Regions from separate parts of the Homo sapiens genome. Here region 2 is linked to region 1. Evidence: fine-mapped expression QTL. A gene starts in region 1. The other region holds a variant in brackets. All regions are shown on one strand. Distances are between the middles of the regions. Region 1 holds the start of LDB3 (LIM domain binding 3). Region 2 has its middle 11 kb from the start of OPN4.

The links. PIP is the estimated chance that this variant, and not a neighbour inherited with it, causes the effect.
Region 2: its variant is fine-mapped to the expression of LDB3 in breast (GTEx, PIP above 0.99).

The regions. Positions count from the first base shown.
Region 1 is chr10:86,663,509-86,671,834 of GRCh38, forward strand. LDB3 (LIM domain binding 3) reads left to right here and starts at 5,003. Exons shown (of 14, transcript NM_007078.3): 1 at 5,003-5,062; 2 at 5,161-5,276. The coding sequence starts at 5,184. OPN4 (opsin 4) reads left to right here. Exons shown (of 10, transcript NM_033282.4): 9 at 151-294; 10 at 2,205-2,952. The coding sequence ends at 2,243. LOC105378409 (a long non-coding RNA gene) reads right to left here and starts at 3,041. Exons shown (of 3, transcript XR_001747526.2): 1 at 2,723-3,041. RefSeq lists an enhancer at 5,134-5,183.
Region 2 is chr10:86,639,819-86,648,144 of GRCh38, forward strand. No RefSeq gene overlaps it. Among named protein-coding and RNA genes, the nearest start is that of OPN4, 11 kb to the right of the region's middle. RefSeq lists enhancers at 3,396-3,635, 5,807-5,976. The variant G/A (reference allele first, on the strand shown) is at 4,788.

The sequences.
Region 1 (8,326 bases):
TTTGGTGACCGGCAACGGTGCAAATGGTGTCAGGGGCCTCCCGCAATGAATACCTGTTGGGAGGATGAAGGAGGGCCTGGTGGGGTAAGGGCAGGAGCAAAGCTACGGACTGTCCCTCTCACCTCACAGTCACTCTCTCACCTCCCTCAGGGCTGGACACACATGGAGGCAGCAGCTGTGTGGGGAGCTGCCCAGCAAGCAAATGGGCGGTCCCTCTACGGTCAGGGTCTGGAGGACTTGGAAGCCAAGGCACCCCCCAGACCCCAGGGACACGAAGCAGAGACTCCAGGGAAGGTGACTGGGCCCGGTACCTGCCAATCCACAAAGGGGTGGGGGTTAGGGGCCAGTAGCCCAGGGAGAGGCCAGGAAAGAGAGACTTGTTCTCATGGGCAGGGGCGATATCCTCCAGGAATCACCTGCTCCCAGCACCTCCCAGCTTTTCCTTGTCTGCCTGGGGTTCTCTGTGACTCTGAGATGCTCTGAGCAGGGCCTGCATATGGTCTGCACATGTGTGTGTGTGTGTGTGATCATGCAACTCTGACTCTGCATGGTGCTGTTGGCTGTGCTGTGGCATGATAAGAGTACATGTGTGTGTTGATGAGGGTAGGAGGTCTGCAGCCGTCAGAGCATAGCTCGAGCATGTGTGTGGCCATGTGCCCAGCACATGCTCCATCACTGTAGCACCTGGCACATGCTCTGTCACTGTAACACCCAGTGACACGTGACTAAGCATGCCCTAATGTGTCTGCTTTAAGCTGTGCATGTGACTGAGTGTGGGTGGTATGTACCTCTCTGTGTGACTGCGAGGTTGGACATACCTGGGGAGGAAGGGGCTGTAAGCTGTGGATGTGCTCACCATAAATGCCCTAAGATCAGGATGTCACCCGGAATACTTGTGGCTATTAAAAGAAGGCCAGCTGTCGGCCCAAGTGCCTATGGAACGGAATGTTGATGGCGATTAGAGAAGGCCATATTCTGGAACACTGGAAATGTCGTGTGCACAGGCTCCCAAGCAGCCCTTCGCCCCAGCTGACAGCTCCCCATCTGCCCCTCCTGTCACACCCACACAACACCCTCAGCTCAGCTCCTGGGCTCTCTCCAGCTTCCCTAGCTAGTCCAAGGCCAAAGGCACATTCCTGCCTGCCTTTCTTCCTGAGTGCTGTGCCCCTGTGCATCCAAGAACGAAAGCCCTGGGCTGTACCTGCAGTCGGGGAGCCTCAGCCTCCCTCAGCATTCCCCCCGGGGGCCCCGCACCCTGTCCTGGAGCCCAGGCACTGTGCATGCCATAAACGCCAGGACAAAGGCCTGGCAGTGACCCCCAGGCTGGCCAGGCACTGATGAAAGACACAGTGCCTGTCTTGGAGGGATAGGCTCAGGGGGGTTGCTGGGCAGCCATCAACAATCACCAAACACATGTGATAAGCGCTGCCATTGAGGTGTGAGCACGCAGGGTACTGAAAGCAGAGGCAAGTCCCTGAGGTTCCCCAGGAAGATAGAGGTGAAGCAGGGATCTGCAGGCAGCAGGGGTGGGGAGTGGGGGGAGCACTGAGCTGTCCAGGATGAGGATACAGCCTGTGTGACTGTGCAAACACAGGGGCACAGGGGAGGGAGCTCAATATGTCCTGGAACAGGATGTCTCTCTGTGACCCTGGGAGCAGCCAGAGGGACCCTGGGGATTGGCAGTGGGGGACATAGGAGAAGGGAAGAGGAGGCGGAGGTGGTAGGAGCAGTGGGAAGGCCCCATCAGGGACTGGCTTAGGTGTCTCCAGACCTGACCTGGGGACAGGAAGCCCTGGGAGGGGGTTGGTTAGCTTTGCAGGGTGAAGACCAAAGAAGGAAGTGCTGCAGGGCAGGAAAGGGATGACCCATTTAAGGACAGCAGGAGCGGGGGTGATGCCAGAGTCTCCACATGTGGAAGAGAGGAGCGGATTGGATGGTGGGGGTGAGGATGGGTTCAGTTGTGACCCCGGGAGTCAAGAGCCCGGGGAGCATCCCAGGAGATGCTCTGTAGGCAGCGTTAGGCGTTACCAGCTCTTACTCTGGGATGTGGACTCTGGGAAGGCCCATCCCTGACCCAGGACACAACCTGGCCCTTCCATGCAACCTCCCCCACTGCTCGGTGACCCAGTGTGTGGAGGGTCATCGGGAGACTGCCCCCAGTGAACTGCTCCTCAGCTAAACAGATGTGTGCTGTTTGTTTGCAGACCAAGGGGCTGATCCCCAGCCAGGACCCCAGGATGTAGGACGCCCACTGGCTCTCCCTTTCTTCTGAGACACATCCAGCCCCCCCACGTCTCCCTCATATACACAGACCCAGGATTATGCTGTGAGCCTGCAGGCTTTGGAAGTGGCCCTGTCACCCGTGCTGCACGGGATTCACAGCCCCAGCCCCATGGCCCCTCTCCACACCTCAAAACTCCTGCCCCATAACGTCCTCCGCATCCACTTTCCAGCTCAGCAGCCGCACCCGAGGCTCAGCCTGAGGGGTATGTGCCCAGGCCCTCCCACTTCCCGAGTTGTCTGCCTCTCCTCAAATGCTGTGTGCTGCAATTGTCCAGGCGATGACAATGGTGATGGCTCCAGAGAACACACCAGCTATTTATGAGCCTCTGCCCCCAGGCTGGGCCTGTCACTGGCATAGGAAGGCCAGCCCCGCATCTCCCACTGCCAACAGCTGAAGCCGAGCACAGACCTCCCTTTGCACGCTGGAACAGTTACTCACCTGTGGCTTCTTCCCCCAGTGTACCGTTCCACTGTGGCCCACATTCTTGTGCACGCGGGCATTTGCAGGCACGCTCTCGCGTAGTTACCTATCTGAATGCACACCAAGCACATGCGTGCACACTCTGCGTCTGTGATTCATTTCATGTAGTGGTCTAAGCTCCTCCCAGGGCTGTGTGGATCTGACAGGGTATAGGAAAATAAAAAGCGGAGAAGGTGTCTTCAGACAAATATGGTCTCTACGTGTTGGTGCTGCTATGGGAGAGAGAACCAGGGCCTGGCCTCTGATGCCTCCAGCAACTTCACTTCCTCTCCTTCCTCTGTCCCCACTCTTGGGACTCTCACTCTGAGGCCCACCTCAAACTGCAAGGAGTACAGCAGAGAAGGGACAAAGGCCAGGCTGGCCTCCATCCCCACTCACTCCCCAGTGAGCCATTGAACTCCGCCCAGACCATGGGTACCAGCTGCTCTCTGACTGGCTTCACATCTCCCGAGGGAGGCGGATGGAGGGAGGCCGGCCTTCGCCTTTAAGAGCACTCTCCTGCCACCCCTCCCTTTCCCCAGAGGCGAGCTTCATCAGGCAGGAGCCAGAGGCCAGAGAGACAGCGTGCAGCTCCAGGTACAGCCTCCCCCAGCTCCCTGGCCCTGAGGGTGGGTGCCTTCCTTCTCCCACACTGGTTATGCCCTGCTGCTGAGTCCTCCCCAGCCTGGCAGGATGGACAAACACCCCTAGGAAAGGGCATAAGGCTGGAGTTAGGGATGAATGACATGGGGCTTTGCAGAGAGGGATAGGGAATGGTATGGGGAAGGGATGCTGGCCATGGACTGCTGGCCTCCTGGGCTGGGCTGCATGATATAGGGTGAAGGAAGTGATTAAGCAGGGAAAAGGACACAGGTCTTTTCCTGACTTCTTCCACTTGATAGTTTTGTGACTTTGGGCAAGTGACAAAACAACCCCGTAATATGGGTGATCCTACCTTGTACCTTGCATGTGCCAGGCCCCAGGAGTGAGGCTAGAAGCTGAGAAATGACTCACACCCAGGCCTCTACTGACTCCTCAGGGTCCAAGCCAGACCCCTCCAAGAGGGCCAGCAAGCAGCCAACCCAGTTGCCTCCCCTGAGCCTCAGTTTCTCCAACCAAGGAGCCAGGGTGGGCCTTGATCTATCTCCAGACCACATAGGGGCCTGAGGTCTTTCTTGGGGAAGGGGTTGGCCCAAAGACCGCACTGGCAGAAGTCCCAAGGTGCTGAGGCCCCCATCCAGAACACACTGTCTCTGGGGTACAGGCTGAACATGCCACACGTGCTTCCCCCTCCCTGCCCCTCCTGGCCCTGTGTCTAGCAGCTGAGCAAATGGCGTCTCCTCCCTTCTCCCTGCCCCCTGCCATTCCTGCGCAAAGGGCACGGGGCCTGGCGTGTGGCACTGGCAGCTGGAGCTTTCCATGCTGCCGTCAAGTTTTCCAGAGCACAAAGACAGGAGAGCCAGGAATAACTGGCTGGGCCCCCAGAGGGTCTGGAGGGGATGGGCCTGCCTCAGACCTGCTTTCAGACCCTATGCCAAGGGGTGCAGGCAGAGGGCCAGCTGCCCAGGACCAGGGCTTTGGGAGGCTTCTGTGGCTACTGGGAGCCCATTATCTGGCATGCATTCTGTAGGAATCAGCCCAGGCTCCAGTGTGACCTGGGTCCACTCCTTGTGTGACCTTGGAGAAGTCATTTAACCTCCCTGAGCTTTGTCTCCTGCGGGCCCAGGTGGCAGCTTCTCAGGATCCCAGGGAGTGAAGGGCCCATACTGAGGTTGGCTATGCCCAGAGCTGCTGTTATGATGATCGTTTTTATGGCTGGACAACCCTGGGCCAGTCACAGACCAGCTGGAGGCTCAGCTCAAGCCAAGGCACCTCCAGGGCCCCATACTGGATAAAGCACAACCCCAGAATCCTGGCCAGGGACCACACGGCAGCAAAGCCCCTACCCAAGGGAGCTCAGCCCCTGGTCTTCTGAGCAAGAGGATGGGTACCACTGGGCAGGAAGAGCGAGTGTCTACGCTCTCCAGAGGACACAGGAGCAAGGAGACCAGAGCATTCTCACCAACCAGGCCAGTTCCCCTTCCTCCCCCCTGGGGGGTGCTGGGTGCCGGACACCCCTCCCCAGGGGCTATATTAGCCGTGTGAGTCATGGTGGACCGGCTGGGAGGCGGCAGGCTGGCAGGCACAGTGTAGGGTTACAGTCCATTTATGGGCGCAGCCGAAGGCAGATATCAGTGTCGATGGCATTCGCTCCCAGCTATTCTTAGGAGCCTCTCAAGAGCTCCACGCAGCCCGGCTGGGCAGCAAGGGACAGAACAGGCAAGGCTGGGGGTCAGGGGCAGGGGCAGAGGTGTGGACCGGGCAGGCGGAGTGCCTGAGTGCCCTCTCACTCAACCCTCTCTACCCTTTGTCTGCAGAGGCGGCCGCTGACAGCACCAGCATGTCTTACAGTGTGACCCTGACTGGGCCCGGGCCCTGGGGCTTCCGTCTGCAGGGGGGCAAGGACTTCAACATGCCCCTCACTATCTCCCGGGTGAGTGCACCCTGCCACAGCCTGGCACCCGATGGGGCAGGCACGCTTGGAGGAGGGCATGTGTGTCCGTCTGTCTGTCTGTCCTTTCTGAGCCTCTCAGAAAGCAGAGCATGCCCCATCCCCTGGGACTGGCCTGGTCCTCTGGTCTCAGCCACAGCTGTTTGCTCACTGGAGCGCGCCGGCCTGTTATGCATGTGAGACATCATGAGCAGGTGGTAGGTGTTTTTAGCAGAGAAGAAAATGCTGAGTTTTCAGGCAGGCAGGCAGGCAGGCAGGCAGGTAGCTGGACAGAGAGTACAGCACCTTCCTGATCCCTTTACTGTTAGAGTGGGCTCAGGGTGCCCCCAAGCCTTGAGCATTTCCCTAGATATGGGCAGCTGCTTTGGGAAGGGAGTATTCCCAGCATGGAGAGGGCAGGTGATGGGCAGTTGGATAGATGGACAGACAGACGGTTGACCTTGGCTGCCCAGCTGTCAGAGTGTGGGGCTGGGCTGGACTGAGTACTGGGCACCTGCTCCATCCCAAACTTGAGACACCAAGACCCTGGCTCATGGGGCTGGGCGCTTCTCCCCATTCACCATGGCTGCTTTGTCTGTCTCAGGTCTTGTTCCCCACAAGTGCTGGGGCCTGGTGAGATGGCCCCCTATCCTGCAGTGTCTGTGATGGGGAGCAGCATGGCCTGATGCAGATGACACAGAACATCAGGGGTTGTCTGAGTAACTCTACCGCCTGGCTGGAGACAGCAACACCAGAGAGGCAGAAAGTTAGCCATGCTCCTGAGGAAGCACTCCAGGAGCAGGGACTGATGGGGGAACAGCCCCCAGACCGTAGTAGGCACTCCGTCAGTTTCTGTCAAACAAAGAGACTCCCCAGCAAGGCACTGGTAGACCCAGGGCTGAAGGCCCCAAGGCTCAGGGCGAACTGTGAGGCATACAGGGCAAGGACAACCCTGCCTGGTGGCTGAGCCCCTGACCGTGCTGTTCCGGGCACAAGGCCAGAGGGGGAGGCCCCCAGTCTGTCACTGGAGGGTGGTAGGTAGGCAGGGGTATCTGGGCTACTGCCCACCAGGGGAACAAGGGGACAGTTTCTTCTCTGGGGCCTTAAGGACTTGCCTTGGGCCTGGGGGCTGGAGGAAGGGGTTGGAGGGGAAGCACTGAAGTGGGCAAGGCCTGAAGGGGCTTGGCAGAGGGGCCAGGGAACCTGGGCAGCGGGTCAGGAGCCAATGCCCCCAGTGGAGGAGTAATCTTTTTTTTGTTCCACGGGTACTTGAGGGGACCCCAGAAGTAGAAGCCCCACCCAGGGATGCCGTGAGAGCCTTATAATAGCCATAGAGGCCACATGCTTACAGGAGGGGTGCTGGCCTGGCTCTGGTGCAGGGAACAGGCCCTGACCTCCATCCTTCAGTTGCAGATGTGGCTTGTTCTAACCTGGAGATTCCACCCCTCCAGATCTACTGCCCTGGAGACCACAGGGTCCTGGGCACCCACAGCCTTGCACACTTTGCATGAGGTGGTGACCTGTGAGCATGTGAGCCCCAGTGGATTTCCCACTGCCCTTTCCCACAGCTCCCCACCCCCATGCTTGCAGGACTCCTTCCTGTATAAGGTGGAGCCTCTGTGTGCTCTCTCATGGGCCCTGTGGCCTCCCCTGCCTGGGACTGAGCCCACATCTCCCCCAGCTCCACCATCTCGAGGCCTCCTGCTGGTGCTCCCTGCCCTATCCCTATGGGTGCAAATTGGCCACTGGGCTCAGTGGCACTCAGGATAGCCAATGACCTCACCCAGGGTCTATGTGCCACCTGGCCCCGGCCAGCCAGGGGCTTAAATGGCAGCCCAGAAGCCTTAAGCTAGATAGCAGGAGGAATGTCCTTACTCTGGGGAGGGGGTATGCAGGGATGTGCTGGATCCAATGACTGTGGGGACTTCTAAAAATAGAACCCGAAGCTCGGGCAGGGCACCGGGGGATGGGCATGATATGGCCTCTCGGCTTCCTTTAGGGGCATACCCCAAATCACCTAAGCCGCGGAGCAGGCTGGACTGGGTACTGGAGCCTTCCCCAGGGCTCGGAGCCTCTTGAGAAATTTTGGTGGTAGGCTGCTGATAGCCTGGGCTTGTGTCCTGGTTCAGTGCCGCTGGCAGGGCAGGCCTTGTGGACACAGCCCTGCCATCCCACCAGGGCTGTAGGATTTACTGCCGGGGCTCGCAGGGCCCTTCTGCACCAGGGACATCCCCCTACGGGGGAGGCATGGCCAGAGCTCTCTGGAGGAACCCCACTCCCACCCCAGCCAGGACCTGAGCCTGTGCCATAGGGCACCAGAGGCAAGAGTGTGTGACCCTGTGGGGTGGGCAGGCAGGCGAGGCTGGGATCGTTACCTCGCTTCAGAGCCTGGCAAACTGAGGCTCGAGTCTGCTCACAGGACAGGGATGTCCATGGGTGGATCTCCTGTATCCTGTCACCCCTAACTCCCATGCTGGCTTGCTCACCCCTCTAACTGGGACTAATAGAGAGGCACTGGGGAGGGTCTGTCCCCTCTCAGCTGCAGGTGTGTGCTGCAGCTCCTCCTGGAAGGACACAGGCCACCTGCAGGCTGGGTGGTGGCTCCCGGGGGCTCATGGCAGCAACTTTGGGGCAGCAGCAGCCCCTCAAGGCATCCCTTCATAGGGTCTCTGCTTGCAGACCCACAGAGAAGGGAGTTCAAGAGGGAGACTGGGAAAGGAGGGTGGCGGGGAAATGCCTTTATTTATCCTGGACAGGTGTGGCTGGGCCTGCAACATGAGCTGCCCTTTCACCCCACCCCAGCCAGTTCTCCAGGAAGTGGAGAAGGGGGAGCAGCCCAGAGAGGGAGCAGCTCCAAAGGCCTCTGCCCTGGCAGCTGGCCAGAGGCTGGGGCTGTGGTCTGGGGTCTCACCTCTTCATGCCTCTCATGCCTCCGCCTTGGGGAAGAGGAGTATGCTTTGTTAGGCTCTGCTGCTCTCAGCTGTGTCACCTCAGAAGTCTGTTTACCTGCTCGGCCTCAGTTTTTCTCACCCTTAAAATGGGGATAGCAGGCT
Region 2 (8,326 bases), 24 kb before region 1:
GACAAGGTTTCACCATGTTTTCTAGGTTGAGAACTCTTGGCCTCAGGTGATCCACTCATCTCAGTTTCCCAAAGTGTTGGGATTACAGGCATGAGTCACCACACCTGATCGTTATAATGCTCTTTTTGATCTCTTCCAATGTTAACTGATTTTTCCTCAGTCCACTCCAGGGTGCCGGACTTGTCTTGTTTTAAAGAGTATATAAAGGTTGAATTTTTAGGGAGAAGTTTGGAACTCAATTCCTACAGTATCCTTCTGACCCAGAAATCCCTTTGGTTGTTTTTTAAGTTATGGGGGTAGGGAAAGCCAATATTTTTTTATACTGCCTGGATGGATGAAAAGACCTTCCTTTGATATTAAATGACCTAAGTATCTTATTTGTTTTTCTCTAAACTGAAATCTTTCTTTTGAGGTCTGTGTCCCTTTAAGCTCATTGTTGTAAAAAGTGCAGCCCATCATCTATAGAGGCTTTGCCTAGCCTCTGAGCAGAGGAGTAAATCATCTACATATTGTGAAAAGTGTGTTGGGATCTCAATGTATCCCTGGAGCAGGATGTCCATGTGTATTGTCTGTTTTCTCAAGTGAAAATGAAAACAAATTGACTGTCTTTATCCACAGAAGTACTAAAGAACACACTACATAAATCTATTACAGTAAAGAACGTGCCTTTGGTAAGAATGGCATCAACATGTATGGAGGTTTAGCACTCCTGGATAATGAGGAATGACTATGTTGTTAATTGTTCTCAGATCCTATACAAACTTCTATCCTCTACCATTTAGTTTCCTTACAGGAAGGATTGGAGTATTACATGTACCTCTTTTTATATAGCCTGGAACTACAGGTTTTATTCCTATTATAGCTTCTACTTTTAAAGGGTACTGGCCAGATGTGATGGCTCATGCCTGTGATCCTAATACTTTGGGAGGCCAAGGCAGGTGGATTGCATGAGCTCAGGAGTTTGAGACCAGCCTGGGCAACATGGCGAAACCCCATCTCTACAAAAAATACAAAAATTTAACTAGGCATGGTGTTGTGCACCTGGGGTCCCAGCTACTGAAGAAGCTGAAGTGGCAGGATTGCTTGAGCCCAGGAGGCAGAGGTTCCAGTGAGCACAGATCACATCACTGCACTCTAGCCTGGGTGACAGAGTGACACCCTGGCTCAAAAAAAGAACAGTTCACAGTTAAGTTACATAAACATCTGTTAAACTTAACAAAGTCACTCAATCCATATATGATGAATTTAAAATACTTTAAAAATAAATAAATAGAGGGTATTGCTTAAGGTTTGGAAGGTGTTTTGATGGATCTATTTGAACTTTGATTGGGGAAGCCAAGATGATTATTCCAATATCAGCAGAAGATTTTAACCACAATTGATCAGGTACTACCTTTAGCAGGTTTTGTAATTTTCATTACTCAATAATTCAGTGTCTACTATGGCAATATAGATTGCAATTAAATTAGATTTTGAAAAACTTTTTATGTCCAGTAACTCAGTTTTATCATCTAATTCTAAATACATTTTCCCTTTTTGGGAGAAAGAAGTGTATTATATAATTTTAAGTCTTTTTCTATAAGATGGATGGGAGCTGATTCAACCAAAAGGAAAACATAAGTCCCTTGTAAGTGACGTAGCTGAAAAGCTACAGGCTGAGATTTATAAACCAATACAGGAGTATTTGTGACACCCACCATTTGAATTTTTTGTTTACTCCAAGGAATGAATCTTGTAATAAGGTGAGATTTATTACAGATAATGTGGCTCCAGTGTCAACAAAAGCTTGTGTTCATACTCCATTTAAAATAATTATTTTTCCCAAAGTAGAGCCAGGGTCATAAGCACAAATATTTAATTTAAATTTCCTGAGAAAACCAATGTCCTGGTCCTGGTGAGAATCAGGAAATTCCTGAACTATGTCTTTAAGTTTTACCTTTGACCATGATTGAGAAACTAGGGTAGGTTCTCCCCTACCAGACACTGGCTGTTTGAGAAATGGAGCTGGAACAGTAGAAGCAGAAGGAGGAGGAGGTAGATCTGGGCAAGGTACTAAAGGATAAAGAGAAGGAGAAGATAATAAAGGATAATAAAGAATAAAGAGACAGAGGAGCTGAGGGAGGAGGATAAATTTCAGCAGTCTTTAATTCAGAATTTTTTAAGACAACTTTTTGTTCTCTTGTAAAGAAATAACTTTATTATAACCTCTTTAGAAGCTTCCAAGCCTCATTGAAAATAACTCTCCCAATTATTTTGTTTTATCTTATAGCTGACTTTTTCTCATTGAGCACACAATTAAATTAGTTTAGGCATTTCAAAGGTACTACATTTTGTCCATTGCAAATGTTAGGATTTTCTTGGGTCAAGTAAGACCATTTTTCCAAATATTGACAGGAGGTGGTGCCATAAGTATTGTACATAAATCCAGCTGGAGTTTCTAAAGATGGATTCTTTCTTAAAGAGGACTCAGTTTTAGATGGAAGATGGACCATAATTTGGATTTTCTTTTTAAGTGACCAAAGACTCAAAGAGAAAGATGTCTTATTTTTTAATTTTTAAATTTTATTTATATGTTTATTTTGAGATGAAGTCTCTCTCTGTCACCCAGGCTGGAGTACAGTTGCGCTATCTCAGCTCACTGCAACCTCCGCCTTCCAGGTTGAAATGATTCTCCTGCCTCAGCCTCCCAAGTAGCTGGGATTACAGGTGCCCACCACTATACCTTGCTAATTTTTGTATTTTTAGTAGAGGCAGGGTTTCACCACGATGGCCAGGCTAGTATCAAACTCCTCATGTTGGGCTCCTTCCCCCTCGGCATCCCAAAATGCTGGCATTACAGGCGTGAGCCACCGTGCCCAGCTGGGAAAGATGTTTTGGATCTGGTATTCTGCTTAACAGGGATTACTCCTCGAGGTGTCACCCATGAGTCACTTCTACTCTCTTATGTGTTTCAGTGAAACCCAGACATTTCTGGAGGCTTAGGGCCCTGGGATACCAACCCTTCATGTATGCCCAACAGGTTAATCAGATTTCCCTGTATGTTCTTCCTTGGGGTTTCCCTGTAGGACCCTTACACAGCAGAAGCTATGACCTCTGACAGTCCTGTGTGGCCTCAGTTACCTAAGGTGCCTTTCAGCTGGGAGGAACAGTGGCCGTTATTTAGGACTTTCTCAGGTCAAGTAAATCACATCCTCAGACAAAGCCTTTAATGAATTTTTGGTCACTCAGAAAGAAAATCTAAATGGCAATTTTAACCCAGCTCCAAAACCTGGTCAGTTTAAAACTGCACATTTAGCTTAAGCCACAAGCATTCACTTTCTCTTTTTAAAAAGAAACTGCTTTCTATTTAACCAATTTTTTTTGAGACAGAATCTCACTCTGTCACCCAGGCTGGACAGTGGAGTACAGTGTGTCAGCTCCCTGCAATCTCCACCTACTGGGTTCATGCAATTCTCGTACCTCAGCCTCCCAAGTAGCAGGGACCACAGACATGCACCATCACGTTCAGCTAATGCTTTGTATTTTTAGTAGAGATTGGGTTTCACCATGTTGGCCAAGCTGGTCTTCAACTCCTGGCCTCAAGTGATCCAACCGCCTCAGCCTCCCAAAGTGCTGGGATTACAGGTGTGAGCCACTGCACCCAGCCCCAAATTTTGAATGGGAGAAAAGTTGCAAACTTTAGCAAGCAAAACAGACAAAATCTTAACCTCAAAAGAAAGTGAAACTACAAACTTGCAAATAACAGAATCTCTAGAGAAATAACAATAAAGTGACTACCTCAAAGCCAAAAGTTGAGCTTCAGTTCTAGCTCTGTTGAGTGTGGAATTGGGTTGCTTGAATAAAGTCTGAATCTCAGCCAGAACTAGGAAGATATGAAACCTGAGAGAAGTCTTACCAGAGACCCCCGCCAGCTCTGATGAGGTCAGACGAGTAAAAGCCACTCATGCTGGTACTAAATCTCCGAATGCCAGCAAAGCAACGAGGATCGCACGAGGCTTGTTTCAGGTCCTATCTGCAGTTGCCAAAATGTCAACTTAAAATAATCAAAAGGATCAGAGTCTAATTTAAAGAGAGTTTATTCAAATACAAAGTTTGAGGATGGCCCACTCAGGAGCATCAACTGCGAAGAGATGGAGGCAGTGTTCTGAAGTAGAGAAATTAGGGTTTCATTTATAGATGCAGAGACAGAGATGTTTTTAGCAGGATTACAACATTTTTCATATGAAGTTGGCACATACTTCCAGCAATTTGATTGATGATAGGCAATGCATCCTTTTTGGAAAGGGTACATTTAGCATTTTGAATATAATGGGTGTAACAGTCATGGGTTTTCTGTCATCTGGTTTAGGCAAAGTAGGACAACAAAGGGGAAGTTAATCTATAACAAGAGTCATTAATTAAGAAGGCAGGAGGCTTTTGTCCCTGATATAATTTAATTCTCTCTAGTCATTGTACAGAACAAAAAAATAAGAAAACAAGTTAATCTATAATCTGAGAAACAGAAGTTGGAACCATATGTGACTAAGATCACATTCACATTTCTCTTAAGGTTTGAAGTGGGTTTTTTTGGGTTCCAACAGCTTTTAAATTATATTTATTTTCACACAAGAAAGCAGGAGGGATGGGACCAGAAACTGCCTTTCAGTGCTATTTCATTTTTAAAGAATGTGCTTGCATCAAGTAGATCACAAATTAAAACCACAACAAACCCAGAAACTCCCTTGTCCTGACAGGAGTTCTCATGCATCAATCTCATCATGTGGTGACTCGCCCCTGTCCCCTGCTGG[G/A]GACACAGAGTCCTTGGCGGGGGCGCATGTCTCTTCACACTCGTGTGAAATCGTAGGCTTCTGGTCCTTGGGGAGAAGCTGTGAAGTTTTTGCTACCAGAACTAGGATTCTAGGAGGCTTTTAGATGACCAGGAAGAGGCTGAGACTCCTGGTGGGGACTCCTGCTGGGAAGTTTCTGGACCACAGCCCTCTTGGTATGAAGAGAGCAGAGGACAGGACCAGGCTAGAGCATCTGCACTCTGGAGCTGGAAATGGGGCCCAGCTCTGGGCCTCCACTCTCAGTGTCAAATGTAGGGGCAGCCCCAAGCATTGGAAGTCGCCCTGCACCCTGGCAGCTGCTTCTTGGGCTCTGTCTCCCATGCCGTGCTCTCTGCCCCAACCTCCTAGGAAGGCCCAGCAGCTTCCCACCAGGCCTTCAGCAAAGACTGCTCCTGTCCCTCCAGTGAAACACTGCCCCAAAAGTCACTTGCCCACTCAGGCTGTGCCGTGGGGGCAGCTGCCACACTCTGGGGTTCCTTGGTCTCCCAAGGAGTCCCCACCCTCACAGAGTGTTGGTCAGCTCTTCTGGCTCTGAGGAATTGCAGTTTACCTAAGGAAATGGGAAGGCCAGAGTTGCAGCCAGGTGCCGGGGCTTAGGGGTCTGGATGGACAGGTGAGGCCTCAAGGACCAGGTAGTTCTTTCAGACTCAGGCTGGCTTGGGGGACCCAGGCAGAGTGAACAACCAGGCCTGCAGGGGGCCAGGGACTTGGTGCAGGGCAGAGCCTAGGAAGGAGCAGCTCATAAAACCCCCAGGCAGTTCCTGGGGAGAGCCAGAGGACTCTATCCCCACCGTTGCTGCCCTAATCATGGCTTTGAACACCCCTCATCTCATTGCTCATAGCTCTTAACTTTTTCTGTGCCAGGAACCCCTTTGGAGTCCTGTGCAGCCTATAGAGTCCTTTTTAGAGGTGCTCTTATTTTATTATATTTTTAAATCTTTTTATTGAGACAAGGTCTTGCTCTGTCACCCAGGCTAGGTTGCATTGGTGCATTGGCATGATCACGACTCACTGCAGCCTCAACCTCTCAGGCTTGAGCAATCCTCCCATCTCAGCCTCCCAAGTAGCTGAGACCACAGGCATGTGCCACTATACCCAGATAATTTTCTGTAGAGATGGGGTCTCACTATGTTGCCCAGGCTGGTCTCGAACTCCTGGCCTCAAGTAATCTTCTCACCTCAGCTTCTCAAAGTGCTGGAATTGCAGGCATGTGCCACTGCACCCAACCCCAGAAGTGCTCTTTTTTTTTTTTTTTTTTTGAACTAGAGTTTTGCTCTGTTGCCCAGGCTGGGGGCAATGGCGCAATCTCGGCTCACTGCAACCTCTGCCTCCCAGGTTCCAGCAATTCTCCTGCCTCAGCCTCCCTGGTAGCTGGGATTACAAGCATGCGCCACCACACCTGCCTTAATTTTTGTATTTTTAGTAGAGACAGGGTTTCACCATGTTGGCTAGGCTGGTCTTGAACTCCTGACCTCAGGTGATCTGCCCACCTTGGCCTCCCAAGGTGCTGGGATTACAAGAGTGAGCCTCCGCGCTGGGCCTAGGAGTGCTTTTAATGCGTAAGATAAAATACATAGGATTGTAAAGTAAGCCAGTGACATTAAACTGTTGTTACCAAAATATTAAACAATAAATTTGTAATCAGGTAAACTATGTGCTTCTTCATTTAATGAACCAACCACAGAATCTGGCGGCAGGTCTACGCAGGATTGTGATTTTGATGTAGTGATGAACAAAACCAATATTGCAAGTTATCTGCAGCAACTCTGCTGTCATATAGAAGGAGTGATGATTCCCAATGGTCACAAAGCCCCAGGAAGACTACTGTGGGGGTTTTGCCCTTGTTCATAATGGAGGGAAAACCTACATTTCAGCTAGAGGTTACTGCCCTGAATTCTACCCACAGACCCCAGGCCTCCTGGCCCCTCCTATCTCATAGCTTCAGCTCTTATGCCTGTCTGCCCTCGGCACCAGGTGCCTGGATCCTTCATCACCACTGCTTCCCCACACTCTTCAGAGGCTTAGGTCCTGGCAGAGGCCTGAATCCAGCTTGGGCCCCCACCCTGCAGGTCGTAGAAGAGGGGAGAGTTTGCTCCCTGGCCCAGCCACAAAATAACAACAACATCCAGAGCAGAGATGGAGCTAGGAGCCGGGGGAGCTGGAGCGAATGAGGCGGAGGAATGGGAAACACATGTGGATCCATGTAGGTATGTGGCTGAGGCTGGCTATGGCTTTGTGTTACACTGCATTTTTAAAAAATCCCAGTGTTTAGGCTATATCCCAGGCCAACTAAATCGGAGTCTCTGGGGGTGGGCTATCATTAATAATCCAGGCGGCATAACTTTTTTAATTCCCAGGTAATCATCTGGGGGGTGTGCTGTGCAAACATGGAAGCCCCATGGGCACCAGGATGTTGCCTGTCCTGCCTCAGCAGCCCCTGTAAGATTGGAGCCTGGATTCTGGGTGAGGCATAAGCTGAGTACTCTGCATGCCTTCTTATGAAGCCACTCGGAAGCCCTGAGAGGCAGGTATTAGTATCTCCATTCTACGGGTGAGGAAACTGAATCTTGGAGCTGTGTGGTTCCTTGTCACTTCCCAGTTCCCTGTAGCAAATATTGGCAAGGCTGGGATGCCCACCGAGGTTGACCTGATCGTGTTGGGCCTGATGGGAGATGGAATTTACACTGTTTTTACAGCTTGGGGAGTTTGCTTGCAGTGCTGACATGTCTACAGTCACAAATTCGAATGCAGAGTTTTCTTTTTTTCTTTTTTTTTTTTTTTTTGAGACAGAGTCTCACTCTGTCGCCCAGGCTGGAGTGCAGTGACTTGATCTTGGCTCACTGCAACCTCTGCCTCCTGGGTTCAAGCAATTCTCTGGCCTCAGCCTCCCAAGTAGCTAGGACTAGAGGTGCCACCACCATGCCCGGCTAATTTTTGTATTTTTAGTAGAGACAGGGTTTTGCCATGTTGGCAAGGCTGGTCTCAAATTCCTGACCTCAGGCAATCCACTCACCTCAGCCTCCCAAAGTGTTGGGATTACAGGCGTGAGCCACCGCATCTGGCCCAAATGCAGGGTTTTCATTCAGACTCTTGTGGTGCCACTCATGCACTGCTGAGATCAGCGAGGGGTTGTGGGGCAGTCACAGAACAGACCCAGAGACACATCTCTATGCCTGAATGGGTCTTCACTAAGAACATCTCTGATGTTTCCTGTAGATTTCCATCCTGCTTCATTTGTCTTTTACACTTCTCCTCTCTGCGAGGTCAGAAATTGCCTTGGGCTATCGTAAATCAAAGTGGGTGACTCTATCCCTCAGACAAATGCCCCACTTTGTAGGGAATGACTCAGACACTTGATTATGATCAGCTATAATATTTTGAGAAAGAAAAGTGCGGTTCCAACAAGTTACCAAAAGGGCAGGAAAGTATATAATCCATGGGTCTCTGTGCCTCTCTCTGTGTACCCCAAATTAGAGGGCTCTGTGTGCAAACAAGGACAT